Linked DNA regions of Homo sapiens: regions 1 and 2 are each linked to region 3. Evidence: fine-mapped expression QTL. A gene starts in region 3. Each other region holds a variant in brackets. All regions are shown on one strand. Distances are from middle to middle. Region 1 overlaps NTSR1 (neurotensin receptor 1). Region 2 holds the start of COL9A3 (collagen type IX alpha 3 chain). Region 3 holds the start of MRGBP (MRG domain binding protein).

Region 1 (10,197 bases), 55 kb after region 3:
GAGACTTTTCATTTTAATGTAGTCTCATTTATGTTGCTTTTGTTGCCTGTGTTTTTGCTGTCATAAAAAAATCACTGCCAAGACCAATGTCAAGAAGCTTTTCTTCTATGTTTTCTCCTAGCAGTGTTATAGTTTCAGGTTTTATGTTTAGATCTTTAATCCACTTTAAGCTGATTTTTTTTTGCATGGTGTGAGATAAGGGTACAATTTCAGGCTCTCGAGTAGCTGGGACTACAGGCGCCCGCCACCACACCCGGCTAATTTTTTGTATTTTTAGTAGAGACGGGGTTTCACCGTGTTAGCCAGGATGGTCTCGATCTCCTGACCTCGTGATCCGCCCACCTCGGCCTCCCAAAGTGCTGGGATTATAGGCGTGAGCCACCGCGCCCGGCCTACAATTTCATTCTCTTGCATGGGGATATCCAGTTTTCCCATCACTGTTTGAGGAGACTGCTTTTTCCCCATTGTGTATTGGTGCCCTTGTGTCTAAGTCCATTTTATGTTGCTTATGACAGAAGACCTGAAACTGGGTAATTTACAAAGAAAAGTCAGGTATTTATCATGGTTATGGAGGCTGGGAAGTCCAAGGCCCAGGGGATGCGACTGGTGAAAGCCTTCTTGCTGGGGGGACTCTCGGAAAAGTTCCGCCGTGGCATGGGGCATCGCGTGCAGAGGGGGCAGAGCATGCTAGCTCAGGTCTCTCTTTCTCTTCTTATAAAGCCACCAGCTCCCCTTGTGTGATTGCCCCTTAATCCTATAACTCATTTATTTATGAATGGATTAATCCATTCATGAGGGTCCAGTCCTCACAGATCCCATCACCTCTGAAAGGCTCTACCTCTCAATCCTGCCACACTGGGGATGAAGTTTTAATAAGATTTGGAGGGGACATTCAAACCATAGCACCTTGTCAAAGATGATTTGACTGTACGAAAGTGGGTTTATTGCTGGGCTCTCTGTTCTGTTCCGTGGGTCTATGTGGTACTAGTACCATGCTGTTTTGATTACTATAGCTTTGTAATATAAAAGGAAATTAGGAAGTGTGATGCCTCCAGTTTTGTTCCTCTTTCTTAATGTTGCTTTGACTATTTGAGGTCTGTTGTGGTTCACTATGAATCCTAGGATTTTTTTTTCTATTTCTGTGTAAAATGTCATTGAAATTTTGATAGGGATTGCACTGAATCTGTAGATCACTTTGGGTAGTATGAAAATTTTAACAATATGAATTCTTGCAATGCATGAACATGAGGTATCTTTCCATTTATTTGTGCAATTTCTTTCATCATGTTATATTCAGTGTACAGGTCTTTTACTTCCTTGATTAAATTTACTCTTTTTGATGCTATTGTAAATGGGATTTTTTTTTTTTTTTTTTTTGAGACAGATTCTCATTCTTGTTGCCCAGGCTGGAGTGCAATGGCACAATTTTGGCTCACTGCAACCTCCGCCTCTCAGGTTCAAGCAATTCTCCTGCCTCAGCCTCCCAAGTAGCTGGGATTATAGGCACACACCACCACGCCCAGCTAATTTTGTATTTTTAGTAGATACTGGGCTTTGCCATGTTGGCCAGGCTGGTTTCAAACCCCTGACCTCAGGTGATCCACCCGCCTCGGGCTCCCAAACTGCTGGGATTACAGGTGTCAGCCACTGCGCCTGGCCCTCTTGATTTCTTTTTGGGATAATTCATTGCTAGTGTATAGAAACACAACTTATTTTCATATGCCAATTTTGTGTCCTGCAACTTTATTGAATGTGTTTATTAGTGCTAACAGTTTTTTTTTGTTTTTGTTTTTGTTTTTGTGGAGTCTTTAGGGTTTTCTATACATAAGTTCATGTCATCTGCAGAGACAATTTTACTTCTTCCTTTCTGATGTGAATGCCTTTTACTGCTTTATCTTGCTTAATGGCTCTGGCTAGGCCTTCCAGGACCATGTTGAGTAGTGCATCCTTGCTTTGCCTGACCTTAGAGAAAAAGCTTTCTACTTCTTATCACTGAGTGTGGTGTTAGCTGTGGGTCTGTCATACGTGGCCTTTACACTGAGTGTGGTGTTAGCTGTGGGACTGTCATACGTGGCCTTTACACTGAGTGTGGTGTTAGCTGTGGGTCTGTCATCATACGTGGCCTTTACACTGAGTGTGGTGTTAGCTGTGGGTCTGTCATACGTGGCCTTTACACTGAGTGTGGTGTTAGCTGTGGGTCTGTCATACGTGGCCTTTACACTGAGTGTGGTGTTAGCTGTGGGTCTGTCATACGTGGCCTTTACACTGAGTGTGGTGTTAGCTGTGGGTCTGTCATACGTGGCCTTTATTGTGTAGCATGCATTCAACACCCAGTTTGTTGAGTGTTTTTATCATGAAAGGATGCTGAGTTTTGTCAAATGCTTTTTCTGTATCAAATGAGATGATCAAATGGCTCTTGTCCTTCCTTCTGTTCATGTGGTGGATCACATTTACTGATTCATATGTGCTGAACTGTGTTTCCATCCCAGGGATAAATCCCACCTGCTCATGGTGGATGAGCCTTTCAACATGCTGTTGAATGAAGTTTGCCAGTATTTTGTTGAAGATTTTTGCCTCTTGGTTCTTTTCTCATAGCGTCCTTCTCTGGCTTTGGTATCAGGGTAATGCTGACCTTGTAAGATGAGTTAGAAAGTGTTCCTTCCTCTTCACATTTTCGGAATTGTATAAGGACTGGTGTTAATTCTTCTTTAAATGTTTGTAGCATCCATCGGCGAAGCAACCTGGCCCTGCCCTGGGGTTTTCTTTTTTGGGAGGTTTTTGGTAACTGATTCAATCTCCTTCTTTGTTATTGGTCCTTTCAGATTTTCCATTTCTCGCGATTGACTCTAGGAAGCTTGTGAGTTTCTAGGAATGTATCCATTTTTTCCAGGCTGTCCAGCTGGTTTGTATAAAATTGTTCACAGTTTATTATGATCCTTTTGATTTCTGTGGCATCTTGTAAAGTCTCCTCTTTCATATCTGATTTTAGCTATGTCTTCTCTCTTTTTTCTTGGTTAGTCTAGCTTCCCTCCACCTTTCTCCCTTCCTCCCTCCCACAAACATCACTGCCTTGGAGAAGCCATAGGAGCCCCTGCCGTCAGAGGTCTTGGATCCTGGGGAGGAGAGACCACTGAAAGAACCACCTGCAGTGACTTCAGGGCCAATAAGAGCTACAGACACAGCGATGCTGGCGGCAGCCTGGCTGCAGTAGTGCTGGGGGTTCCGGGAAGGCCTCTGCTTGGAGGTGACTTCTCATCTCTGACCTGATGGCACCCACAAGCCTACAGGGACCCTAAGCTCTCCTGGCAGACGGTCCAGCAAACTCACAGACCTGAGAACTCAGGGGGTGAGAACTGAACAGGAAGCAGACGGCCAGGCTGGGGTAGTGTGGGGGCCTGGTGGTGACCCGCCGGGCGGCAGCCTTGACCTTCCCCCTGGCTGACCCCTTCTCTGACCTCTGCTAGTGTGGCCCCCGTCCCTGCCCAGGCTGAGCGTCTACCTCTCTAGGCGTCTCAGCCCTGGCCACATAGGGTGGCCTTGAGGGACTTTGTCCAATGGACTCAAGCAGCTTGAAGGCCATGCAGGGCCGGCCAGAGGATGCCTCAGCGCCACTGATGCCACAGCACCCTGGCGCCTTTCGATTTGTCTCTAAAGAGAGCAGGGAGTCACCTGGCCCAGCCCCATGAATATTCTGGGGGACGCGTGGTGGCTGGGACTCCCAGACCGCCTGGCTTTGCAATTCCAAGCAGCAGGGGAGGGTCATGGCCAACAGCAGGGAAGCCCTGGGGACGGCGAGGCTGTTCAGCAGCTGTAGAGAAGGCCATCCAGTCCCAGCGAGGTCCACGCCAAGCTGGATTTGGAGGCGAGGCAGAATATGTGTCTCTGTCTGTCTTTGTATCTTTCTCCTGTGATGTCTCTGTGTTTTTCTCTGTGTTTTTCTGTGTCTCTGTCTCCTTGTATGTTTTCCTTCCTGTGTCTGTCTCTGTTGTGTCTCTCTCTGTATATCTGTGTGTTTTCCTCTGTGTCTCTGTCTTTCACTGTTTTCCTGTGTCTGTCTCTGTCTGTGTGTCTCTGTTGTTCCTGTGTCTCTATCTCTGTATCTCTGTGTCTCTGTTCTCCTGTGTCTCTCTCTGTCTGTTTTCCTGAGTCTGTGTCTCTATCTCTATATCTCTGTGTCTCTGTCTCTATCTCTGTCTCTGTTTTCTTGTGTCTCTGTATCTCTGTCTCTGTGTCTCCCTGTGTCTGTTTTCCTCTATGTGTCTGTTTCTCTGTCTCTGTGTCTCTCTCCATGTCTCTCTGTGTCTCTGCTTTCCTCTCTGTGTCTCTCTCTCTGTCTTTGTGTTGCTGTCTGTCTGGGTCTCCCTCTGAGTCTGGTGTGTGTACCAACATCCTCAGGTGGCAGGAACTGGCTGGGCCACCCTCCCTGGAGCCGGCTGGGTAGCTGGGCTCTGGGCCATGGGCCTCAGTGGCTGGGTCTGAGGTTTTAGGGGTGGATGTTCCAGAGCAGAAGGTCATGGTGGGAGACAGGGGTGTCTGCTGTGACAGCCGTGGTGGTCTGGAGGTGGGGCTGCCTCCATGGGAATCTCATTCGTGCTTCTGGCAGTATCCTCTGCTGTGTGCACCCCTCAGCTGCTACCCCTTGCCTCCTAGCCCTGTCTGGGTCTGGGAATGGCGTTTGAGTGGTTGGTAGGGCCTCAAGCCTCTCAGAAGCAGCCGAATGCCTGGGGTTTGGTGCCAGAAGTGGGGGCCTGGCTTG[T/C]TCCCTGGCCAGCTGTGAGCTCGGCAGGTCCTCCTGGGCCTCAGGCTCATTTCTCTCTTTTTTTTTTGTGAGACTGAGCTTTGCTCTTGTTGCCCAGGCTGGAGTGCAGTGGCGCGATTTCTGCTTATCACAACCTCCGTCTCCCAGGTTCAAGTGATTCTCCTGCCTCAGCCTTCCTGAGTAGCTGGGATTACAGGCATGTGCCACCATGCCTGGCTAATTTTGTATTTTTTTTTTTTTTTGAGACGGAGTCTTGTTCTGTCACCCAGGCTGGAGTGCAGTGGTGTGATCTCAGCTCATTGCAAGCTCCACCTCCCGGGTTCACGCCATTCTCCTGCCTCAGTCTCCCCAGTAGCTGGGACTACAGGTGCACGCCGCCATGCCTGGCTAATTTTTTTGTATTTTTAGTAGAGACAGGGTTTCACCATGTTAGCCAGGATGGTCTCGATCTCCTGACCTCATGACCCGCCCACCTCGGCCTCCCAAAGTGCTGGGATTACAAACACGAGCCACTGCGTCCAGCCCCTCAGCCTCATTTCTAAAAGAGCGAGCCTAGAGGTGCTGCCTCAGTTCCTGGAGCACTGACTGTGCTCCCTTGGGTGTGGGAAAGGAAGCAAATTGGGGGGCACAGGACTGCGGCTTGGGAGGCTGGGATGGGACACGCTGGGGCGACGGCTGGTGGGGCTGGACCTATGGGAGGGACAGCCTGGCCTCTGCCCCCTCGCATGTGTAATTTTGATGGGGAGGACGGAGGTGGAGTGAAAGGTTAGATAATGAAACAGCAGGTGTGTTAGGGGGATCTGGACCGGGGCGCAGCCTCTGGGTGGTTGGTCTGAGCTTGGCCGTGGAGACCAGGTGGGGAGCGGGAGGGGTGCACACGGTATGCCTGCCCACAGGTGAGGGCACAGCCAGACAGCAGGAGGGTGCCCCCGACACAGGCTCCAGACAGCCGGCCTCAGCCCCTCGACCTCAGGCAGGGCGTTCTCACCTCGCTCTTCGAGAGCAATTGCTTGTTTTGTATTCTGCCTTTCTCTCTAATTCATCCCATTGTGTTTAGATCAAGAGACAGCCCCAGACTGGCACACTGCTTCCCGGCTCCGCAGCCAGCCTGTGCTGAGTGGGAAGGTGCAAAACCCTTTTGCTTTGCAGAACCCAGAGGCTTTGTAAGATGGCTGCAGAGGCTGCGGGGCGGGTGGGAGGGGAGGCTCCTGTCCACACCCTCCCAAGGGGGTGACCGCTGGGGTGGCCTTGCTGGGCTGGCAGGGGATCGCCCTCTCCCTGAGCAGATGACCAGCCCCAGCAGGGCCCAGGCTCACGGACGGTCTTTTCTAACCTCCCAGACAGACTCCAGGTGGAGAGGCCCCCACTAGACCCAGCAAACACTGACTTGGGAGCAACCCTCAGGGTTCTCATGACCCCGAACTGCCTTCCCCACCACAGCTGAGGCCAGGAACGATGGCAGAGTTAATTCAGAAACCCTGTGTGCCAGGGCCGTCAGCACAGGCTTGTTCGAAACCCCAATGATTGGTGAACAACTCAAAGGCTCACCCTTTGGGGCTGGTCGCCATGGCATGACGCACCCACACCACGGGGCACTCAGCTGACTGGACCGGGGGCAGGGAGCAATGAGGCAATGGGTGGGCCTGAGATGGCCGGGATACGTGTCCAGCAGGGGCGGCTCCGTGCTCCCCTCCCAGCCTGACTCTCTGGATTGGAGCCTACCGAGCTGATCTGGGGAGAGGGCAGGGTAGCTGGGAGGGTCTCAGGTGTGTCCCCCAAAAGCTAGACTCCCACAGTGAACTACCTACACAAACAAAGCTAAACTCAGAGAACGTTCCACTTGCCTGTGCTGTGGGTATGTCCCGTGACAGGTGCCCTGGGATGAACAGGAACCCCACGGCCACACCAGAGCCACTGTGACCACCTCACAGCCCTGGAACTGGGGAAACACTGCGGGGAGAGGGATGGGAACCCTGGTGGGTCTCTGCTCCCCATGCCAGAGGTGGGGTGCCAGGGCCAAGAGAGCAAAGGGGTCTTTAAGGTGACACAGCCCAGCGCTTTCCAGGAGTGAGGTCATCCAGGAGGCTCTGACCAGTGGCTGTCCTCAGAGGAGACACCATGGAGGGACCCAGGGAAAAGCAGCGGCCACCCACAGGACACCTGAGACCTAGGGCCCTGTGTAAACAGGTGTCTGGGGAGCAGAGGACGGAAGGCATAAAGAACTGCCAGTGTGACCTTGTTCTAGAAGGTTCTGGTAGTGGCCAGCTTGGGATACTGTGCTGTCCCTCAGTCCCCAGTCTCTTTCCTCGGTCCTCCCTCCCAGGCATCTAAGCAGTACCAGGCCCGGCTCGAGATGCTGCTGGGATCTGGAATGCAAAGCTGTGGGACTTGCTGCCCAGTGGGGACACGCCTGACTCATGGTGGATGGGGGCCTGGAAAGCCGTACATTGCCGCGTGGTCAGCAGTGACCACAGACCTGGCCTGAGGAGGAGCCCACACACCACCTCCTGGAACGCCAGCATTTCTGAGTCCCTGAGGGCAGGACTGGAGAGAGAACAGGCGTGTGACCTGGAGGGGCCATGTCAGCCACCTCGGTGTCTGTGGGACCACTGTGGGGAGGGGATGAAATGGACGGCGCAGCTTCTGGCTAGTACTTGGCCCCTCACGACCCCGTCCACGCCTCCATCAGAGAGCTCTGATGTGCAGGTTTTGGCTCAGTATTAAAAATAACGGTTTGAATTCCTCTAACCTTCACTTTCTAGCTGACATCGACTGTCCTGGGGTCTACACATACTCTGTGTGCACCACCTCAGGCACACAGGTCTCATCTGTGAGGCAGAGGCTCCTGTCAGGCTCCTTTTGTAGATAAAGAAACCCAGGCACAGTTGTGAACCCAGGGGCCTGATCCCACAGCCTGAGCTCCCACTTCCTCCATCAGGGGCCATCCTATGAGCAGATCCTCATCCCCACTGGTGAAGCTTTGTGGCATGTACCTCACCTGAGCAGATGCCTTCTGTGGGCCATTGCCAGGTTTTGAGAGCATCTAGTCCAAGGCTGTGGCTCCTTGGCGACCTCTCAGGGACTGAGCCTGCCCCACAGCCTCTGTCCATGGCTCCTCCACTCTGTTCCCTGCACTTTTCTTCTGGTTTGGAATTTCTGGGAAAGGCTCAAGAGAATGCCAGAGCCCCAGGGAGCCTCAGGGGTTCAGTACCATGGACAATGCCCAGGCATGCTCGAAGGGGCGCACAGACATGGGGTGGGAGGAACATGGTGTGGGGCAGGGGGCCGGTGTAGGGACCCCCAAGCCAGCTGGGGGCAAGGACCCCATCAGGAGAACTCTGGCCACCTGCAGACCCGTCCTCTGAGCGGGGCTGGTGAGTCACCCGTCACCTCTGCAAGAGGTTTGCCCTCCTCTCCTCTTCCAGGCAGCAGGGAGCCCTGAGTGTGGGAGTTGGAATCTTTTCCCTCCTGATTGCTGGAGCTATAGAGGCCATTGTCTGAGTGGGGACTTGGCAGAACAGAAGCCCCTGGAAGCCACATCCTGTCTGTGCCCGGCTGAGCTGCGGGACTGGCAGCAGCCTGGCTGCCGGGAGACCCCTGACTTAGCAGCCTGGCTGCCGGGAGACCCCTGACTTAGCCCAGAGGGCCTTAGTCAGATTAGGGAAAGAGCCTTCCTGACACCCTTGCCTCCTCTACCTGTGCTGGGCAGGTGCCCTCCAGGACAGGAGGAGGGGAGGCCCCTGGCCCTCAGCCCCGGGAACGGCCCTCCCCTCGCTGAGCCTGGCCGGGGCCCAGAACCCCAGTGTGCCCCATTAGTCACTCTGAGGGCAGTGCTGGGGTGGCGAGTTGCTTTTCAGCTGCTCCAGCACTTCTCAAGAGTAAATCACAGGCAGCGGCAGGTGACAGCCAGCGGTTGAGGCTGCGGGCTGCAGGTCTCTGCCATGTTTTCAAATATCTGCCAGCTTCAAGCCCATGAGAATGCTCACACCCACAAGGCATCTGCTGGGAAGCACGACAGGGCTTTAAAAACTCTTGACAAGCCCAGGAGGCTGCGCAGAGCAGTGAGTGAGGGGTGGAATTCTGGCCCCGGTCACGGCCCCCACCTCTCTGGGGATCTGAGCGGGAAGGATCCCTGGTAGGGCCTCGCACTCCTGTTTCTCAGATGAGGAAACCGTGGCCAGGTGGGGGCTCCCCTGGGCTCGAGTCCACAGCTCTGGTCTCCACCCTCAGACTGTCGGCACAACCCTTTTCCCTCCCGCCTGCACGGCTTGTAAGATCTGTCTCCCGCTCACCCTATGACTAAGAATGAGCCCCACAACCCTTTTCCCTCCGGCCTGCACGGCTTGTAAGATCTGCCTGCCGCTCACCCTATGACTAAGAATGAGCCCCACAACCCTTTTCCTTCCGGCCTGTGCGGCTTATAAGATCTGCCTGCCGCTCACCCTATGACTAAGAATGAGCCCCACAACCCTTTTCCTTCCGGCCTGCACGGCTTGTAAGATCTGCCTGCCGCTCACCCTATGGCTGCGAATGAGCCCGTTCGATCCGGTTTGCTGAGGCTTTCGTTCATACTTTTCTAAAACGCAGGGCACTAACGTGACAGATCAGAAGTGGAGCTAACACACTTAGCACAGAGCGCTTTGGAGCCCGGTTCCTTGAAAAAAGCCACACCATCCGGAAAAGTTCTCTGCTCCATGCAGGAAAAGCCCAGAGACCTGCAAACGCAAGCCCTGGGTTTCCGGGGAGTTTGTGCAAAGCCCCAGCTGTGACCAAGGAGGAGCTGCTGTGATCAAGGGGGAGGCCCTGCAGCTGGGGACGAGGCGGTGCGGCCAGGGGCCAGCAGTCCCAGCACGACTTAACTTTCCATGTCAGAGCACAGATTTGGAAAAGAGCAAGTGTTCCCAGTTGCCTGCGGGACAGCATATGCGTCCCGCACCCCGCCGGCCTGTTCTCCAGTTCTGGCCGTCGCCGGCCGCTGCACCTCCAGCCCCACGGTTCTCTGTGTGCTTTTCTGCCATGCAGACATATGGGCATCAGGCACATCCTGCCCCTCCCAGCGCCTAGTGGCCACGCCCTGGCAAAGCTGGCCGCCGTGTCCCACAGACATCTGGCTCTACACAGCATCTCAGCGGTGTCAGTGGAATTAGTGTTCTGCCCTGTTGTGGTGAATCTGATTATGGTGAACACACAGAGCCAAGTGTCCTCACCCACCGGAAGAGGCCGTAGGGGTGAGAGAGGAAGGCCGGGGGCGGCCCCTCACACCCCCAAGTACCTGCATGGGAGGGACTGACTCAGTGACACCTGGCTCTCCTTGCTTCCCCAGCTGCCCAGCCCCTGGGCTCAGGGGGCCCCAGGCTCTGGCTTAACCCCAGATCTCCACCCTTTGTGCTTCAGCCAGGCCCCTTCTGTGTGATTCCAGGGGCTCCAGCCTCTACCCTGAG
Region 2 (10,197 bases), 18 kb before region 3:
GGCTTCTCCCAGGGAGGTGGACACGCCCAGCTCCCACCAGCCCCCACTCCCACGGACTGTGCTGGTGTCTGCGTCCTGAGGTCGGGTCTGGATCATTGGCCAGGGCTTCTACCAACACCCACCAAGGTGGGGTTGGGGGAGAAAGGGAAAAGGGAGAGGGGAAGGGAGCCCCTGGCTGTTGAGTCTGGGGGTGGAGGCCACAGGTGAGCACACTCTGAGGGGCTCTGGGACAGCCACTCACCGGGGGGCCGCGGAGGCCGATCCCACCTGGGGGGCCGCTCACTCCTGCCTCTCCCTGGAGGGAAGTAAAGAGAGGTGGGGAGGTCTGCACCCGGAAGCCCCGAGGATCCCCACCCAGGGTTGGTGTGCCGCCTCCGAAGGGAGAGGGGCTCCAAGTATGGGGTGGTCAGATGGCTGCCCCTGAGAAGCCCCACCCCCAGGCACGGTTTGGGACATCCCAGCCTGGCAGGCTCTCGGGACTTGCGTGCTTGCTCAGGGCCCCAAGGGTTGTCAGTACTCACGGGGGGTCCAGGGAGGCCTTTGCCCTGCAAAGCCAAACATGGGGTCAGAGCCTGCCAGGCACAAGAAGGGCTGCGCCTCACCCCTCCCTAAGATGGCTCAGGTGGGTCCTGGGGAAAGGGCGGTTCCAGGGATGGGTGTCTGGTCCCAGCCCAGAGAGGGCACCAGGACCCCATCCAGGCACCAGCCTCCGGAGAGGCTGCAGATGAGAGGGCCAGGGATGGTCCCTGGGATTCCTGGAGGCCACCCCATTTAGACCAGACTCTCCAGCTCCCCAAACTCCCATGGAGAGGAGAGGACCACACTCCATACTCACCCCCAGCCCGGGCGGCCCCGGGGGTCCCAGACTTCCCTGTGGGAGGAAAGCAGGCGTCTAGGTTGGGCTGGGCCTCTATTTGCAAACCCAATCCCCTCCCTCTGAAGTGTGACGTCACAACTCCAACTCCCAGGACAACAGGGTCCAAGTCCCCACTTCACAGAGGGGCAGGGCCTCTGAGCCCTCTTGACCTGGAGGGTCTTTGCCGTCCTGGGGAGCTGCTGGAGACAGATGGCACCAGAGTCCCAGCGCTCGCTGCAAGAAGGTGCAACCTGAGGCAGGGCTGAGAGGCACCGAAGTGACCCGGGGTGCCTGTCTCCACCAGGAAGCCCTCCCGATAACCCACCCACGGAGCCTGCTGAGTCCTCAGCCCCCGCCCACGTCAGCGAGCCCCAGAGCCTTGGGCAGCCAGGCCCTGTCTGCCCTCCACACCCTCTGGGCCCTGTCTGGCCCCTGCTGCCTGAAATGCCTCATTCCCTGGACGGCACGCACGGGCCCTGTGCTGAGGCTGGAGGCCCCTCCTGAAAGCCTGGGGACCAGCCCACCCCACACCCCTGGGCACCACGGACTCGGCTGCCAGCAGCTACTGTTTCCCTCCTGTTTTCAGCTCAGAATCCGCCTCATGCCTGACGAGCTCCCAAGGGTCCCAAGGGCAGGGCTGTGTCCTCGTGTCCCCAGCCCAGCCTTCCTGCCCTCTGTGATGCTTTGCGCCTGGGGCCAGTGGCACCCGGTTGGCTGACAGCCACGTCTTATGAAGCCAAAGAGAGAATGCTGGCTTCGGGTTTGTACTCAGAAGCCACAAGGGGAGAAAGGCACCCTTGGGTGGTGGTGCCGCTCCGTCAGGGTAAAGGATTCAGTGTCCAACAGGCAGGCACAGGGGACTCTGCAGGCTGCGTGCCCGGGGGTCCCTGGTGGTGGTCTGCCCAGGGCCCTGGGGGCTTCAGGGACATTCTGAGGAGGCACCTGGGGTGGGTTCCCCCAAACCATCCCCCTTCTCCCTGCCATGGTCTGGATACCAGGACAACTCTGACCATACGTGGAGGTGAGGCAGGGAGGCAGGCACAGGGGACTGGCCACTTGGCACCCTGCCCTTCTGCCCCTCCACCCCAGGCACGGGCAGGGCAGCTGTCCTTGGAACTACCAGCTCCTTGGCCTTGTGGACACAGAGCAGCCAGAGGTGGCCAGGGGACCTCACCTCTGAACCCAAGCCACTGGGTTCGGCGCAGGCACTTACCCGTTCCCCAGGGGCACCCTTGGGTCCAGGGGGTCCATCTCGTCCAGTCAGACCCTGGGGAGAGGCAGAGGGCGAGCTCGAGGGGCCACATGGGAAGCACATGCCACCCCCCAGGCAAAAATGGAAGCACGGACCCTTCCCTTGGTGAGTCCAGAGAGGCATAGAAGACCCTTAGGGTGGCAGCCTCCTCTCTTGGCCCTGTCCACTGTCTGCCTGCTGTAGCCAGAGGCTCTGGGAGGAGGGAGGGGGCAGCCAGCGGGAAGCCAGCAACGGAGGCACCTGCTGTAGTCAGGCCTCGGGGACCAACCCAGCAGGACTGGACAGCTCACTTCTCAGGCCCGGCTTCCTCCGAACAAAACTCCGTGGCCCTGGGGCCAGGCCTGGAGCCCAAGATGACTAAGTGAGGCCAGCAGTGGGCAGAAGGTCCTGACAATGGGCACTCATTCCTGGACAAGCAAGGAGGGCTGGCGGGACTTCCGACTCCACTGGGCTGGCTCTGTCCCCTGCCAGATGCTGGTGGCGTCTGGGATGAAGGCCAAAGGACCCCTGTTGGGGACTTCTGGAGACTTCTCTCAGGACTGGGCTTCCCGCCTGAGCAGGCCCAGCTGGACAACAGCAATTAGGGCCGGACTCCTCCAGGGACCCGGAGCGGGGAGTGGGGCATGGCGGGGAGGGGCAGGCGCACTCACATCCACACCCGGCAGTCCCGGCAGCCCAGCCTCTCCTGGTTTCCCCGGCTTTCCTGGGGCCCCCTTTGGTCCCTGTGCAGGAGGAAAGGGCAGAGATGTGAAGGCGGGGTCTGGCCTGGAGCCCAGGCCTTCAGCAATGAAGCAAAATGCTTTCCACTTCCCCCCAGCCCAACCATACGGGATGGGCCCCTCTCCTGGGTCCCCCCTACTGTCTGGCAGACCCGGCTCAGCTGGGGCACGTGTGTCCTGCTTGCCCACACCTTGCTGGCCCAGGAAGGCTGCCCGCCCCATCCCTCAGTGGCATCTGTAAGACCTTCGTCTGGTCACCTCGGCCTCCCTGGCTAAGGGCCAGCAGGCATCTCTGTCGGACCCCCAGTGGGCCCAGACAGGGCTCTGAGCCCCAGGACCCTCAACCCCTGGAACTGAAGAAGGTGGGAGGGCTCCAGGTGACCTCAGGCCTGGGGGACCTGAAGGGCTGTACCAGCCCCGGTCCCGGCCTGCCTGGCGCTGGTCCAAAGAAAGCTTCAAAGCCAGGCCCTGCCCTGAACATGCAGAGGCTGAGCCCACACACTCCCCTCCCGCCCCGCTGGCTCCAGGCCTGCTCCAAGCCCTCTGAGGCCTCCCCTCAGGCAACCCGGGCTCCGGCAGGATGAGACAGGATATCAATGACCCCTCTGTTCTGAGTTCCCCCTTTCTCTCCAGACTGGAAAAAGGCTGTCTCCCCAGCCAGGGACACTCACCGGGGGCCCAGGCAGACCTGGAGGACCAGCTTCTCCCTGTGAGGAAAGACACCCACATGTAACCCTGAAAATCAGGGGTCCCTCAAGAACCCCGCCTCGGGGAAAAGAGCAGCGCTGGCCTCCAAATCAGCCCCAGAGGCCCAGCCCCAGCAGACAAAAGGGGCCCCTGAGCCCCCGATCCCTACCTAGAGGGCACCCTCCCATGTGTGGGGCAGCACTGGGCAAAGGGGTGAACTGGACAGACTGGAAGGAGGCTGTGGCCATTGAGGCCGAGCTGGGCAGGGGGGCAGAGGGTGGGTCATGGGGGGCTCTTGGTGCAGCCCTCCACAGCCCTCCACGGGGACCACACAGCGTGGACAGGCCCTGAGGGGACTCCTGCCCTGGTGGTGGTCACATGGGGAGGTTCACCCCAGACGGTCCCTCCGAGGGAGGCACAATTGTAGAATTTCAGCCGCCTCCTCCTGCTGCTTGGCCCACACCAGTCCTGAGATACCCATAGGGGACATCATCTCAGGACTGAGTCGGCTCCTAAGCCCCCTCCATGGCTGGCTCCAGAGCCCAGCAGCCTCCAACAAGACCCCCGGCCCCCAACCACCCAAAGGACGTGCCTCTCCCCACTTCAGCCAGAGGCCAGAACCCCGAACACAGGGGCACGGGCCCCTCAGGGGACCCAGAGACACACACCTCAGTGCCGGCATTCTGGGTGGAGGACCACCACATGACACCCTCCACCCCTACCCACCAGCAGTCCCCGCAGGGCCACCCCCATCCCGTGAAGGCACTGGCTGTCCCCTGATGTCACCCCGGCTCTGGGAGGTGGGGCCTGGTTTTCTCTCCATCAGGCCGGGGAGCTCAGGGAGGTGGGGGCCAGAGCCAGAACCCCAGAGCGCTCGGGGCCCTCCCCACCCCCAAACTCACGTCAATGCCGTCCTGGCCGGGCTTCCCGGGCGGCCCTGGGGGGCCGGGGGGGCCGGGGAGTCCCACTCTCTGAAACGGAGAAAACTCATTAAGGAGCGCAGGTGCCCCCGTGGGCCTGACCCGGCGTCCCCTCCTCCCGGGTCCCGAGCGGCTCCGGGGCCTGCGACGACCGCCGCTCTCCTCGGTGAGACCCAAAGCCTCGGGCGGA[GC/C]CCGGCGCCCCCGCGCAGTGTGTCCCCCGCCTCCCTCCGGCGGCGGGAACAAAGGCCCCCTTGTGCTCCCAGAGGAGGCGGCGGCGCCGGCCGACCCGGGCCAGCGAGGACCCATCGAGGACGCGGCCGGACGGGGCTCATCCCGAGGCGCTGGCGACTCCGCGCCCCGACGGCGACACGGGCTGGGGGCGTCGAGGCTGCGCCGGGCACCCCGGAGTGGCGGGTTCGGGGCTGGGGCGGTCGCGGCTCCACGTCCAGCCTCAGAGCCCGGAGCTCGCGCTCACCTGCGCCCCGGCGGCCGCCAGAAGCTCCCCGAGCAGGAGCAGGAGCAGGAGCGGGGCGCACGCGCGCGGCCCGGCCATGGCTGAGCGGAGTCTGAGCTGCGGCGTCGGGGCGGGCGGCGCGCGGGCGGGCGGGGCGGGAGGTGGGCGGCCCCTTCCCCTTCCCCTTCCCGCCCCCGCCTGCACAAGCCCCCCATTCAGCCGGGCCCACCTGGGCGGGGGGGCTTCCACCCGCCCCGCGCCGCCGCCCAGCCCGCCTGGGCGAAAACAAAAAAGACGCCGGGCGGGCGGCGCGTTCTCTCCGGCCGCGAGTTAAAATTATCCTGGGACTGGCGCGTTGCACACACGCAGCTTTGAGCAAGAGAGAAAGACGCTCTTTTCTCTCCTTGCTCCTCAACCCGAGTGTGGGGGCGGAAGCGCGCGGCGCTGAAGGGCCGCCTTCAGGGAGGGGCAGGGGAGACCCGCGAGTTTCCGAAGCCGCAGACCCCTCCCCAGGCGCCGGAGCGGACCCAGGCGACCCAAGGCCCAGGAACACCCCGGGGAGGGTGAATCCCCGGTACCAGGGCCCGGTCAGTGCCCAGCGCAGCCCTGGTTCCCGCTCCGGGGTCACTGTCCAGCGCTGCCTGCTGGGCTGGGAGCACCCCCACCGCGGCCCCTCACCCGTGGACCTGGACGGGCCGGGTGGTCAGGCCACGTCAGTTGCTACCGGCTAAGACCAGACTCCAAACCCAGACTCCCAGGAGAGATCGCAAAACGATGACCCTGGCCGAGGGGAAGAACCCCTCCCCGGGATCCCCGGCCTGAAGGAACCGTGCCCTGGGCAGGAACCTGAAGGCGGTGCTGGCCATGTCCATTTCCCAGAAGCTCAGGGGTCGCCAGGTCCGGCCAAGCTCTGCCTCAGGCTGCCAGGGCAGTCGCTGCCCTAGGGGACTCAAAGCTTCCAGTTGCCTGTAGGCTCAGTGAAGGCGCAGATGCCAGCCCCTCCCCCAGGAATCTTGAAAATTCCCGAGAAAGGCTGCCCTGGGGGTTGTAGGGGGCTGCAGGAGCTTCCTTTCGGCAGGTGGGGACTCATGACTGTTGCAATGCTGTGAGTTAGCAAGGGCGGGAGGGGATGAGAGGGGAGTGGGCGCAAAACTGCTCAGCAGGAGCACCGCACTCTGGCCGGGCGCAGTCAGCCTGGCGACAGAGGGAGGCCTCATCTCTACCAAAAATTGAAACATCGGCCGGGCGTGGCCAGCTTGGAGACAGAGGGAGGCCTCATGTCTACCAAAAATTAAAACATCGGCTGGGCATGGTGGTGCTCGCCTGTAGTCCACGCTACACGGGAGGCTGAGGCAAGAGGATCGCTTGAGCCTGTAAGGTCGGGGCTGCAGTGAGCCAAGACGGCGCCACTGCACTCCTGCCTGGGCAAGAGAGTGAGACCCTGTCTCAAAATAATAGTGTCGCTCTAATCTCTCCCGCGGTGAAGTGAGTGGAGGGAGATTCTCCCTTCACTGCTGGGTGAGCGCGGTGGCTGGGCTGGGAGGGGTGTGTGCGAATTCCATCAGGCGAGGTGGGAGGAGCTGAAAAGGCCCACCCTCCTGAGGAGTCCAAGTCATCCTGGCACAGAGCTTCCTAACAGAGGACTTTTGATTACGGGGAGAGGTGGGTGGAGCAGGTCAGCCCAGACAGCAGGGGGCCTTAGGGGCTCCCAGCACCAGCCCCACCCCAAGCCCAGGGTCTGGGGGACAGGATAAGTCCTCCCTACCAGTTCCACCTGGCAAGATGACCCTGTGGCCAGCCCCCTCCTCAGTGGCTCTCCCCTGGTCCCTGGCCCCACACCCCACTTTGCCTATCCCCATGATGCCCAGCATGCAGTCAGCAAGGACTGCTATCTGACCCAAATCAGACAAAACACAGCTGGCCTTCACCTCAGGCCAGGGGAGCCACCTCATGCCTGGGACACCTGCTTGGTGTCCCCCCCGAACCACCTTCAAGCCCCTCAAAAAACCACCCCCAGCTCCAGGCAGATCCTAGGCAGAGGGTGGGCACTGTCAGAGCTCAGCCTCCCCCGGCTCACTTTTGAGTGGGGCAGAGCCTCCTGCTGCCCGCCTGTTGTGGGTCATCACTCTCCCTGAAGCCCGGGTTGGCTGGCCAGCACTGCCTGCTGTCCCCAGGTGCCCACCGCCAGGCATCGGCCCCCAGGGCTGCTCCAACAGGCTCCTCACTTCAGGCGCTGATTTTCACCGACTCCAGCCCCACAACGGCCTGGACTGGGGACGCTGGATCTGCCGGGCGCTGCCCCAGTGACTGCACTTCTAGCCCTATGTCCAGCTCACTGCCTCAGTTTCCCTCCATGGCAGGAATCCCCTGAGCCACACTTGAGGCACCAGGGGTCCCACAGCTTCCCCACGCAGCTCTGGGGGATTATTGAACCTCGGGTGTCTCCTCCCAGTGACTTCCGGCTCGTGTATCCTGTGCCACCAGATGGGAGCTGGGCATTTTACCTGAAGTGGTACCAGGGTCTACAGCTTTAACCCTCCCACCCAGGGGTGCCCCAGGTCTGCCCTGTCCTTCACTGAGCAAAGACAAGTGTCCGGCCCCTCCTCTGAGGCCCCACAAAAAGCCCCTTACCCTGCTGATGTAGAAATGTAGGGGAACCGGGAAGCGGGGGGTCCTGGCCCAGGGTGACAAGGGCAGACTGCAGGGAGGGACTGCCCTGGGGGCACACCTGGCTCCACCAGACCTGAGGGAGCCAAGGGGCCCGCCAGAGAGTACTGCCAAGCCTGCCCGAGGCACAGCAGCGCATCCCAGATCACAGCAGGCAGAAAGGCCTGGTCCAGACCCCACCATGCACAAGCACTGCCCCGGCCAACCCCAAGGGAAGCCCCAGACTCATCTTGAACAGGTGGCAAAAGCCTGCTGAGGGACCTCGGTTCCACCTTCAGAGGCTCTGGGAGGCTGCAGCCTGCCCACCTGTTCATGCCTGGGGACTGTGTGGCCAAGTGGGTGTGTGGGGAGGGCTGGGCCACCACTCTGCCCCCACAGGCACCTGGTGGAGCAATGTGAGGCGGTCGCCGGGCCAGGCCACTGGAGCCTGGAGGGACATCAGCTGTGACACCAGCCCTACCAGCCACCCAACAGGACCCCGGTCCATACCAAAGACTCAAAGTCAAATGAATTTATTCAGAAAAGGCCTTGCTTGGTATCAGACTAAGAAAAGCAGCCCTGCCCGCCGCCCCCCACTCCAGAAGGGTCAATTTACAAAGACAGGGGCGCAGGGGAGAGCTGGGTGGGGAAGACACAGCCAGGCCAGGAGGCTTCTGCAGGCCTTGGGCTTCCCTGAGGGCCTCGCGGCTTCTGGTGGCTGCTATAGTGGCCCCACAGGAGGCCAGCACTGTGGGTCATGGGTCACGGGTCACGAAGCAGAGCCTGAGGGGAGCCCGCAGCAGCTCCGGAGGCCCCAGCCCCTGCAGCAGGGACAGGAGGACCAAGACGCCGACGGGCACTCCTTTCCTTAAGGCTTCCCAGACTTGGCAGAAGACTCCACCTCTGCGTCCTGCAACTCTGCTGCCTCCCCCGCCTTGGCTGGCTCATCCCTTGTAGGTCCTGCCGGGCTGGGGCCTGGGGTCTCCGATGGGCTCTCGGCTGGCTCGTCCCCTGCAGGTCCTGCCGGGCGGGGGCCTGGGGTCTCCGATGGGCTCTCGGCTGGCTCGTCCCCTGCAGGTCCTGCCGGGCGGGGGCCTGGGGTCTCCGATGGGCTCTCGGCTGGCTCATCCCTTGTAGGTCCTGCCGGGCTGGGGCCTGGGGTCTCCGATGGGCTCTCGGCTGGCTCGTCCCCTGCAGGTCCTGCCGGGCGGGGGCCTGGGGTCTCCGATGGGCTCTCGGCTGGCTCGTCCCCTGCAGGTCCTGCTGGGCGGGGGCCTGGGGTCTCCGATGGGCTCTCGGCTGGCTCGTCCCCTGCAGGTCCTGCTGGGCTGGGGCCTGGGGTCTCCGATGGGCTCCCAGGGGTACCTTCTTTGGGCCCCGTTCGACCTTCTGTGTCCTCCTCAACCCCGTTCTCACTGTGTCCAGCCTTGGGGTGCCCCGATGGGGCAGGGGACCCGGCAAGGGCCAAGGTCTGGGCACCACCACTGGCCACCGCAGCACTGTCCCCAGCACCCTCATCCACCTTCCTCCGCTTCCTCACCTTGTCGGCCACCCTGGCTCCCAGGGGTTGGCGGCAGGGCTGCACTGCCTCCCCAGGGTCCTGACCGCCCACTTCCTGGGTCCCCGTCCTGAGGCTGCCCTGGCTGAGGGCACACCCCTCCAAATTCAGAGCGATCTTCTCCACCTCTGAGGCACTCTGAGGGCCTGGCTCTGTGGGCGGCTGCTCCCGCCGGCTCAGCTCCAGCTTCCTCTTCTTGCTCTCTTTGGGGCTTAAGGGCTCCGGCCTATCTTCCCCGTGGCCCCCTGCCTCATCCCCCTGGCTCCTCTCCAGGGGTCCCGCATCCTGGGGCTCCACGCTCCGTGGCTGGGGCCCCTCGTCCACCCTGCCCCCACCCTTGCTATGCTCTGGCCCACAGGTCCGACCCTGGGTGCTGGCCTCGTGGTCGGGGTCCCCGGGGCTTCCTTCCTCCTCCACCTTCCTGGAGCCCTCGAGCGGATGGGGCAGAGAGCTGGGCTTGAACCTCCGCAGCTTGTCTTGGGGCCCCCAGACGAACTTGCAGCGGGGCCGGAAGTGCTCCCAGGCGAAGTGCACCAGCTGGCGGCGCTGGTGTCGGCAGCGCACGGCGAACATGAAGTAGTCCAGGGCACTCTGCCGCACCCCCGGCAGCTCCCGCCGCACCAGCGTCTCCTCCAGGAAGAAGCGGACCAGCGGCGCCTGGAAGTGCTCGAGGCCCAGCTCACCCAGCGACTTGAGGATGCGTGTGATGCGGAGGTTGTTGTGGCTGCGCCTGCGAGAGATCCGGGTCAGGAGAGGTCAATGGCTGGGGCCCCTCCTGCTGGGCCGCACCCCGCCCTGGCCTGCCCTCCCACCCGGCTCCACGAGGTCTCCCCACCCTGGCCCACGATTCAGTCTCTCTCTCCATTTACCTCTCTGGGCCCAGGGGAGGACTCATGCCATCCCTGTGAAAATGGCCTGTGGGCCCTAGACACACGGGGGTTAGGGGGATGCTGACGCATCACCTAGAGGGTGGCTGTACCCCGAGTCCCCCTGGTGGGGAGGAGCTGGCTGGATGAGAGCCACAAGGGGCCCCTGCAGGGTACAGGCGCCTCGAACACCCTGTGAGAACTGGCTGTACCGCCTGCAGGTTCTCCATCACCCCTGC
Region 3 (10,197 bases):
GCCTGCCCCGCAGAGAATCCCCTCTTCCAGGAATATTTCTGTCCCCCAAGAGAAATCCCCCCAGAGGATGTCCCCATCAGAAGAATGTCCCTTGGAGGATAACCCCCGGAGGGGCCACGTGTCCACAGGGGCCTCTCTCCCTAAGCTGGGTGTGTAGGGGTCTCTGTCCTTCTGCTGCGGGCTGGGGGCCTTACTCAGCTCCTGGAAGCTGCTGGCGGACCCCTGTCCCTCCATAGGCAGTGCAAAGCACGGCCGTTTTCTTTTCAAAGCCACCAGGGGAGTCTTTCTCTCTAGGGTGCCGAGTCTTATATAACCAGGATGACATGGGCAAGCCGTGGCTTCCTTCACCTTTGCCGCCATCTCTCAGTTGTAAGAAGGCACTTAGGGGAGAGGACCACACGAAGCCTGGGCCACCGGGAGGGTCACCCTGGGGACTGTTCAACACAGCTGATGCCAGTTCAGCGCCTCCTCAGGGCCCTCTCTCTAAGCACTGGCAGATATGGGGCAACACAAAGTCACTTTCACCTGCCATTTCCCAGCACCGCGGGTCCCTTGCTCATCCACCTTTGACATCTGCTGGCAGATACATGGCAAGGTTGGTGACCTCTTGAAATAAAAATCAGGAGTGGCCACTCCAGATAAATTTCTTCTGTAACTGCTATACCAATTCATTTCAAAACATTTAGGTAAAACTAAATCTGGATTTTGGACTTGGCCATGAGGATAGCTCCTCGCAGAGTTGTCCCTGTAATGATGGTGGTGGAAAGGTGGAGAAGGCCCCAGCCCAGCCCCTAGGGGACACTGCCATCTCCTAGCCCTGCAGGCCTGCTGGGCCTGGGAACTGGTGACATTCCTTGTACTGTGTGCCAGGGACAGCCGTGAACGCAAGTCTTCCAATCCTGGCCACAAGTACAGGTTAAGGACCCTCTGGGTGCTGGGCCCTAATCTTTGCTGACCTGTTGACCACTGTTAGCAGGTGCAGTCTCACCTGGCTGGAACCTGTGGACATGCATCACACTTTCTTGAAACGACAGTGGTGATGCCCCGAAGTTCTGGGGCGCTGGACATTTCTGTAAATCAACTTAGTGCAGTGGCCAGGGCAGGTTTCCCAGGGAGCCTGAGTGAGCTGCCTGACCTCCTTGTTAGATGATTTACAGGTGGGATCTGGTTGCAGCATCAGAATAGACTGTGAGGTGGAGTCGGGGGGCTCTGATGGGGACATTGATGGGTGCTGGGTGGTTGTATAGGGTTTGGGTGATCTGAGACTTGGGTGGTCAGGCTGCCCCCTCCACTGCCCCAGAAAACAGAAAGACAAGCATACTGGGTGCTGACAACATTGTTCTACGGGGACAGCATTCCCGCTGCTACCTACTGTCGGCAGGACTATAGAACCACTTCCCTAAAAAGAGTATTAGAGACATTGCCCAACTTCTGTTTTACAAATATCACCACACCAAATTGCTTCTTTAGTTGCTTTTGTGTTGTGTGTGTGTGTGTGTGTGTGCAGAGCTCATCTCGGGGGCGTGCTAATCCAAGAAGTGCAGGAGCTGCTGCAGGGGACTGTGCAACAGAATTGCTTCTTCAGAGCATCCTCTGCAGTCCAGTGACGCCCCGTGTGGCACGGCATTCCAGAAGGGTTTGCTGTTGAGGCTGGGGAAAGGGGCTCTCTTTCTCTGTCACATACTCACACACACACACACACACACACACACACACACACACACACACACACAGCTCCCAGGCACCCAGGAAGGGCAATGGTCTCTGCACACGCAGTGGGTGATGTGCCTGGAGCAGGCAATGCTCACAGCTAAGGAGCCCAGCAGAATTTTGTGTGGCTGGGAGCTTGGATTACAGCCTTCATATCTTCTCCAGGCAAGACCAGTGGCAGCCTCCTGATTTGGCCCAAGCATGCCCTGTCCTCAATCAACCAGCCAAGCAGGGAGCCTCGCTGCCAGTGCCCTGCCGCTCAGTATTTATTCGCTGCTATTTGGGGAGCAGTGGAGCCCAATTGCCTTTCCCAGTCACCCCTGGGTCGCCCTGGGTGGGCAGGCGGGGGAGTTCAGATCACTCCCACTCTCAGCCTTCACTGAGTCCCCACCCGCAGCTGCCAGCCATAGAGAAAATGTCTCTGCGGCAGCAGGTGCTCTTGGGCCCTGCGTGTTCCAGGTGTAGAGCCGCTGCTGAGGCTTCCAGGCTCAACATCAGCGGCGGCTTCTGACCCGTTCAGATCTTGTCCCGAGTGCACAGTGTACCACGTCTCGCCTCTACAGCAGCAGGCGCGTGAGCGTCCGTGCACGGGCCAGCCTCATGCCAGCTGTTTTCCTTTTCAGATTGGGGTTCAGTCGGCACCTTCTACATGACATGGTGGAGTGTGCATTACATAAAGCCCCCAGGTTACAGACAGGACCCCTGGGGCCAGGAGAGGGTAAGTACAGCGCTTACCAGGACTTGAGGCCACATCGCCCTTGCCCTGACACTTGTGAATTTGACCTGGTCATCCCACCTGCCAGCAGAGCATGAACTGGGCCTCCCCACAGGGAAGCCCAGAAGCCCCTGTGAGTCCATAAGGGCTGCGTGGCTCCTGACTTCAACCAGTCAGCCTCTGGTCCAGAAGGGAGGCCCGGGGCGGGGGCACGCTGCTCACCTGCCCAGTGGGCTTAACCTGTGGGCTCTAGCTTTCTCCTGGAAGTGCAGCAAAATGTTACAGTAATCGAGATGAGGCAGATTTATTAACTAGGCTTTCCTAGCACAATCTGAGGTCACCCGAGATGCGGTTTCAGATGGAGGTTTAGGACAGTGAGCCTGGGTGGCGAGCAGGACTCCTCCTGGCCATCCCGTGACACCCCGTGTTAGTATTTGCCCCCCTTTGCCCTGCTGCTTCTGGACTGCCTAAGAGCCAGGCTGCTGTCCCGGACTGAGACTCCAGGACAGGACCTGGCACAAAGCCCTGAATGAGGCTGACCTAACAGGAGAGATCAGACGGGCAAGGGGGCACACTTGGGCAGCAAAGGGAGACCCCACCCTTCCCTGGCTGCAGGGCTGAGTATTTGTGCTGTGAGTGGAGGAATGCCAGGCGGGCTCAGTCCTTTGGTCTATGTGTGTGGGGCCCTCCAGATGCCTGCTCTTTGTGGCAGGCTGTTACTGCAGGGCTGTGGATTTGTCCCGGCTCTATAGAAAAGGGACCCACAGGGTCCCCCCAGGCAGCTGCTCTACCCTTGGAATACAGCTCAGGCAGGCCGTAGACCAGCAGCTTCCCTGGGCTGTTCTTCCCCAGAACTGGCAGTGCGTTTGGTGCAGACGAGTGGCAGGTGCCACACGGGGCGATCACATGGCACGGGATTCCTGGCTTTGCCCCTTTAGTGGGTGCCTTGTGATCTGCGTCATGGTGAGGAGGACTTCAGGGACAGATGGCCAGGGATGTTCCCAGGTGGTGGAGGAGGCTCCACTGGCAGAGAAGCAACGTCAAGCTGAAGACATTGGGGTGCGATGGCTGGCCAGGACAGCTTGTCTCCTCGTCCGCACACGGAACGCTGGATTTCACTCTGTGACCCAGCCAGCGGTCTCATCTCACAGCCGCAGCTTTCAGCAGGAAGGAGCCCACTGGTGCCTGCCTGACCTACGAGGGCCCGCACCGTTTTGCCCTCCTAACATTTTGTATTTGAAGTGCTTGTCACAGTCCACAAAATAACCACTCAGAATCTGTTACTATTTTGTTTATATGTTGTATCAAGTGAATGTTAATAAGTCATCTAAGTGTATGCTTTAGTTATAAATCTTGGAAAAATAAAAACTTCCTTTTGGAGGAAAAGTGAACTTACTTTGGTATCAAAATCACACAACTCCAGGTTGGATTTTTTTGTGCTTTAATGTTCGCAGTCACACGAAAGTGGCATCTCCATCAGCACTGGGGCGGCCGCCTCCTCATCAGCCGACAGCTGCACGGTCCCCGCCTCTCATCCATTTGGTCTGTTTGCAAGTTACTAGATCATACAAAAATAACCGCTACAAATTCTCTGTATCTGGCATATAAAAACTGAGCAAAAAGTATCTCTTAAAGCAAAACATCTCAGAAAAAATACAACACAGGTTTAACTTCTGCAGTACTTTGTTCATATAAAACACTAGTAAAATAGGCTTCTTAAAAATTAAATAGTGAAATACCAACCAAATTATATACATTGTTACAGTACAAGTGAATGAGGCAAAATATCCAGTTCTTAGTTTCCCAGGTGGGTGGGGGTGGCCTTCAGTGCGTGGCACGGAGGGGGTGACAGGAAGGCCACGTTCCAATGTCACAGTCAGCGCAGAAAGAGGCTTGCAGCGGGACAAACAGATGGAAAGAACTGAGTCACACAGGGAAGACCAGGGGCTCCTTTGAGGAAGAGTGAGGTCATGTTTTTATTGCTTGCTAATCCGAGGTTTTCCCTGGCCCGATGCCCCTCTAGGTAGCCTGGATCCCAAATGCTGCAGCCCACGTAGCGCTAATCCATGTCACCAAGCAGCCACGGGGAAGCCACAGCTGCTCCAGAGAAGACAGAACTAGGCTTCAGAGCCCTCAATATCTGAGCTGGACCGATCCTGGTCTTTCAGGTCCATCAGGGTCCCACATGGTCCAACTGACACACACGTTTCCCCGCTGACGGCCACGTTCACCTGAGAGCCTGAGGGCGGGCAGTGTGGGCTCATGGCACTGGGATGGTATCACTGTGGCCTGGGGGGTGGCACTCAGACCCAGCCAACCCCCTCAGCGACCACAGTGCCTCGCCCGCTTCTCTGCCGCCACCAGGGCTGAGGGTCTACGTGCGGCGCCGCTTGGCAGCACTGGGACTGGAAGGGTTGCTGTTTGCGGTCAGGACTTTGTCGGTGACCCGGCTGCGCTTCCGCTTGTCTGCGCCTTCTTTGCACCCCAAGTCTGAGGAGTTCTTCTCTTTGTCTTTGCTGGATTTTTCTGATGCTTTCCCCAAACTCCCTGAAGATGAAAAAACTGAGAAACGAAAAATCACTTGGCTGAAAACAGAATATCCAGAATCTTATTTTTGTCTTCCTGTTCAGTTAAAAAAATCTGCATACTGACACGTGACCCTCTGAACCCAAAGCTTCCTCCTGAGCTGGGAGCCCCTTGCATTTGGGCCCACAGAGGGGCCTGGTCCTCCTGAGGACCTGCCTGCGGCGGGCACTGCAGGGACCGCCGCTCAGACCCTGGCCTACAACATGGAGCAGGCACTCAGCTCCTGGGGAGGGGGCACTGCAGGATCCATCCTGTGCCTAGATGACCTGCCTGGGGCCTCTGCACCGCAGGCTCTACGCCCACCTGACTGTGCCCTGCCTGAAGGCAGTCTTGGGGTGCTGAGCCCCAAAGGGCATCAGGGCAGGGTGAGCTCCACACTCACCATCGTCAGCCCCATTGTGGGGGTCCACGTCTTCCTTCATCTCCTCTTTCATCTCCTCTTCTATCATCACTTTTCCTGTGGAGGAGACAGCTGACGCTCACCGAAAACCCACGGTGGTGGCCGACGCTGGGGGATGGTCAGGCCAGGGACTGCTCCGACGCTTGCTGCCCACACAGGCCTCAGCTTCCGTCCAGCCACTGCTCTCAAACAAAGTCCTCTCCAATCCCGGAGGTTCCAAGACCACCCAAGCACAGGTAGGGCGGGGTCTGCGCTGGACCCTCACACCTCCCTGGAGGCCCGGGGTCCTCACCCTCACCTCCCTGCCCTTGGCCAGGGTCTGGCCTTTTCTGAATCCCAAGCCCAACCTTTCCCGAGCCTCACCTTCTCGGACCTCCTGAATGATCTCTTCTGGAAGGACGAAGTTCCTCTCTGGATTCGGGAATGGAAGAATCTCAGACTCATGCTGATATCAAATAGAGAGTTTTGTTTAAGAAACAAGGGTGAAGATGCAGTTTCAAGAAGTCACTAGAGCCGTGTAAGAGCCACTTGGGGAGAGGCCAATGAGCACACATCACTGTGTTGGAGGCTGCGGCGGGCGGGGCAAGGGCAAAGGGCATTTCTTCTTTTTGTGAACAGCGCCTGCCACAGCTGGGCTTTCCAGACAGACCCAGGGAGGGCAGAACCAGCGGCAGCAGATGCAGGAGTCAGGAAGACCCACCGGGGCCAGCATCACTAAGGCGGGCCCTGAGGACCGGGCAGCCCTGGTGACACACACCTGTGGGCTCCGCCTGCCCAGCACGGCCTGCAGTCTCACCATGAGACTGCGTTCCCCAAGGCGGCATGCAGAGGGCACAGTGACAGCCCTGGGGAAAGGCCGCAGGCACCTCGAGTTCTCATCCACGTGGCAGGAGCCCATGGACACCGAGGGTGTCGGTTGGGAGCGCCACAGGCACAGAACCAGGCAAAGAAGAAGAGAGTGCTTGCCAGGCACTGCCCTCCTGAGGTCGCACAGACCAGAGGGAGAGACCTATGTCATACTGATGGCCGGTGTGGCCCTGAGTCCAACGTGGCTGGCACAGACTCTCCACCAGCACAGGTCCCCACTCCTCCTGGTCACCTGACCCCTGACCCCCACCCCACTCTCCAAGTACACCACCTTCTTTGAGCTCCTGGACCCACCACCTCCTGCTGCCACAGGGCCTGGAACACCCACCTGTCTCTTCTGGCCACCCTGCTTACCTAGTTAACCCGCTCGCCCGTCACACAGTGCCAGCTCCAAGCTCTGCGAGGACTGGAACTCTACTTGTCTGACTCCCACAGAAGTCACCAAATTCACCTTGGTGTGACTCAGATAGGGTCACCCTCTGCCTAAAGCACTTCGGGGGCCTCCCAGGAGGCTGACAATGGCCTAAGGGCCCGGGACTCTGCATCCTTCCCTCCCTCCCCAGGGTCTCAGCTGGAGACTCTGGCCCAGCACCCAGTCTAAAGCAGAGCCCCTGAAAAGCTAGCCAGCTGCTAGCACTGTGTTTGTGCTTTCCATGACAGGCTCTGGAGCCCCGGGATGTCCTCCTTAAGGACGAGCCTCACTGCAGGGGTCTCTGCCCAGGGGACCCCAGCAGGCACGGAGGGGCCTCTGCCCAGCTCAGGCTGACCCTGAGAGCTCACTGCAGACCCCAGCAGGCATGGAGGGGCCTCTACTCTGCCCAGCAGACCCCAGCAGACATGGAGGGGCCTCTGCCCAGCTCAGGCTGACTCTCAGAGAGCGGTGTGCGGGTTCGTGCCCCCATCGGGCGGCACAGGGAGGGCGGTTGGGCTCACCAGCGCCTGCATGTCGTACATGGTGCTCAGATGGTCCCAGATGACCTTGGATGGGACCTGCCGCCCGATGTTCTGGCTGAACTTGTCCCGAATACAAATCATGTGGAAGTGTCGGTTCACACCTGAGGGGAGGAGGGGCGGCGGGATAACCGGTGAGCGGTGAGGAGAAAGGGGATGGAGGGGACGGGCTGCCCTGGGGACTGGAGGGGCAAGGGTGGCTGCGGAGAGATGGGGAGGGCCAGGGTGTGGAGGGGCTGTGGGGGGGCAGGGCTGGGTGGTGTGTGTGGGAGGGGGTGGGCTGTCCCGGGGCGGGGGTGGGGGTGGGGCACTGCGGGCTGGGACCTCGCGGTCTCACGGGGGTAGGGGTCGTGGGCGGGGTCCGGGGCGGGGTCCGAAGGGCGCGTGGGAGGGGGCGGGGGTCCCGGGACGGGTGTGGCGGCGGTGTCACGGCCCGGGCTCGGCGGGGAGCGTGGGGGCGAGGGTGTCGCGAGCGCAGGCCCCGCCCCGCCCCGCCGGTTGCCCGCCCCGCCCCCACGCGCGTCCGCAGCCTGGGCGCTCACCGACGGGCTTGTGGCCCAGCATGGCGTGGAAGAGGCACACCTCCACCTCGGGGCTCCACACCACTGTCTCCTCCGCCGGGCTGGTGGCCGCCTCCCCCGGGCCCTTGTCGCCTGCGGCGCCCCCGCCGCCCACCTCGGCCTCTCCCATGGCCGCGGCCCGGCCGAGCAAGGAGCCCCCGGCGGGAGCAGGCGCGGCCACGAGCTCCGCGCAGGCGCACTCGGGGGCGGGCGCGCGCTCCGCCGGGTACGCGCTCGGGCTCACGCGCCGGCGTCGGCGCAGGCGCAGCCGAGGTCTCGGGTCCCTTCCCGCCGGGGACTCCGCCCTGCTCCGCCCCGCGCGGGGGTTCTTAAAACGTGTTCCTCTTTAAAGCACAGTAAGAAATACACTGCACCCAAACAAAAAAGTCTGTGCTTCAAAGGAAACCATCAGAAAAGTGAAAAGACGACCCACAGATGAGAGAAAATATTTGCAAATCCTATATCTGATAATGAACTTCCTTGTAGAAGGTATAAATAATTCTTATAACTCGATAATAAAAAGACAATCTAACTATAAAACGGCTAAGGATTTGGATACACATTTTTCCAAAGAAGATGTACAGATGGGCCGGGCGCGGTGGCTCACGCCTGTAATCCCAGCACTTTGGGGGGCCGAGGCGGGCGGATCACCTGAGGTCAGGAGTTCGAGACAAGCCTGGCCAACATCGTATAACCCCGTCTCTACTAAAAATACAAAAAAAGTAGCCGGGCGTAGTGGCGGGCGCCTGTAATCCCAGTTACTCGGGAGGCTGAGGCAGGAGAATCGCTTGAACCCGGGAGGCAGTGAGCCGAGATCGCGCCATTGCAATCCAGCCTGGGCAACAAGAGCGAAACTCCGACTCGAAAAAAAAAAAAAGATGTACAGATATGGCTAATGAGCACCATCGGTCACGCGAAACTAGAATCAGCCCGCGTGGGGACCCCCTGCCCCGCCGAGACCGCCACAACCACGCGGCCGGGGTGACGAGTGCTGCGAGGGTCAGGGCTCGGGACCCTCGTGCGGTCGTGCTGTGCGGTCAGATGGGCCGCTGCTGCGAAAGACAGTCTGGCCGTTCCTTCAACGATGGAACCGTCTCCCTAGGAAGCAGCAGCTCCGTGGCGGGCGCCCGCGGCAGTGGAACAAGACACAGGTTCAGGCTGGGACCCGCAGCCGCGAGGCAAGCGCCGCCCCCAACCCGGGGCTGAACCTGCGAGGGGCGCCCGGAGCGCGGGCACCCGCACGGCGCAGCCGCGTTCAGCCTAAAAGCAGCGAGCGCGGACTGCGGCAGCGTGGGTGCGGGCTGAGACGAAAGTCAGAGAATTCAGACACGAAAATACACAGCATGGGAATCCATTCACAGGAAGAGCCAGAACTGGCAACTCCATAGGAATAGAAAGTAGATGCACGGTTGCCGGGGACGGGGGAGGGGGAGGGAAACGCGAGTCACTGCGGATGGGGACCGGCTTCTTTTTTGTTTGTTTTTGAGGCAGAGTCTCGCTCTGTTGCCCGGGCTGGGGTGCAATGGCACGATCTCGCCTCACTGCAACCTCTGCCTCTTGGGTTCAAGCGATTCTACTGCCTCAGACTCCCGGGTAGCTGGGACTACAGGCGCTCACCACGGCCGGCTAATTTTTGTATTTTTAGTAGAGACGCGGTTTCACTATGTTGGCCAGGCTGGTCTCGAACTCTTGACCTCAGGTGATCCTTCCTCCTCGGCCTCTCAAAGTGCTGGGATTACAGGCTTGAGCCACCGCGCCCGGCCGGGCCCAGCTTCATTTTAAGGAGGTGAAATGCTCTGGAATTAGATAGTGGCCACGGTTGCTCGCAACAAAACCCCACCGAATCGTGCGCTTTAAGCGGGTGAACTTAACGGTCTCAATAAAGATGTTAAGGAAAAAACAAAACCAGAAACCCCACAATTACTGCAGGCATAGGGCTCGCTGCCCGGGTCTGGGTGCGGGACGGAGGGGCTCACGCCCGCCCCCAGAGTCCAGCGCCTGCTGGGAGAAAGGGCAAGTAGGGGGTCCGGCCCTGCCGGCCTTGACCGCCTGCCTCCGACTCCCGGCCGCCGCGCAGCCCAAGCTCTGGGGAAGCGTTAACCGCGGGTCGCTGCGGAGGCCCCACCGCGGGGCGGGGCCGGGGCCGGACGGTGAAGAGGGGGCGAGATCAGGGCGGGGCCTAGGCTGGGGCCGGGCGGGGAAGCGCTCGGGAGGGCGGCTCGGGGGCGGGTCAGGGGCGGGGCCGCCAGGTCAAAACGCATCCATGACGAGCTTAAGGCGGCCTCCAATCAAGGCCGCCGCGGCCTCCGGCTCCGCCCGCTCCGCCTCTGCCTCCGCCTCCGCCTCCGCCCTGCCCTCACGGGCTTCTCTCCGCCCCATTCCCTCTCGGCCACGCCCACCACGGCCCA

Evidence for each region.
Region 1: its variant is fine-mapped to the expression of MRGBP in fibroblasts (GTEx, PIP 0.91).
Region 2: its variant is fine-mapped to the expression of MRGBP in whole blood (TOPMed, PIP above 0.99).

The regions. Positions count from the first base shown.
Region 1 is chr20:62,739,356-62,749,552 of GRCh38, reverse strand. The region is part of intron 1 of NTSR1 (neurotensin receptor 1); the gene reads right to left. Among named protein-coding and RNA genes, the nearest start is that of NTSR1-AS1, 9.1 kb to the right of the region's middle. RefSeq lists enhancers at 8,985-9,613, 8,594-9,793. The variant T/C (reference allele first, on the strand shown) is at 4,757.
Region 2 is chr20:62,811,855-62,822,051 of GRCh38, reverse strand. It overlaps COL9A3 (collagen type IX alpha 3 chain), which reads right to left and starts at 5,002. Exons shown (of 32, transcript NM_001853.4): 1 at 4,910-5,002; 2 at 4,417-4,485; 3 at 3,499-3,534; 4 at 2,759-2,830; 5 at 2,070-2,123; 6 at 836-871; 7 at 522-545; 8 at 242-295. The coding sequence starts at 4,987. It overlaps OGFR (opioid growth factor receptor), which reads right to left. Exons shown (of 7, transcript NM_007346.4): 7 at 8,052-9,822. The coding sequence ends at 8,403. RefSeq lists enhancers at 2,700-3,387, 3,388-4,073, 4,762-5,447, 6,136-6,822. The variant GC/C (reference allele first, on the strand shown) is at 4,625.
Region 3 is chr20:62,794,246-62,804,442 of GRCh38, reverse strand. MRGBP (MRG domain binding protein) reads right to left here and starts at 7,970. Exons shown (of 5, transcript NM_018270.6): 1 at 7,772-7,970; 2 at 7,212-7,333; 3 at 5,775-5,856; 4 at 5,394-5,468; 5 at 2,714-4,987. The coding sequence starts at 7,919. The coding sequence ends at 4,800. OGFR-AS1 (OGFR antisense RNA 1) reads left to right here. Exons shown (of 3, transcript NR_102430.1): 2 at 2,334-2,428; 3 at 3,364-3,816. It overlaps LOC105372716 (a long non-coding RNA gene), which reads left to right and starts at 10,162. Exons shown (of 4, transcript XR_936986.3): 1 at 10,162-10,197. RefSeq lists silencers at 7,664-8,203, 9,665-10,197 and an enhancer at 8,827-9,373.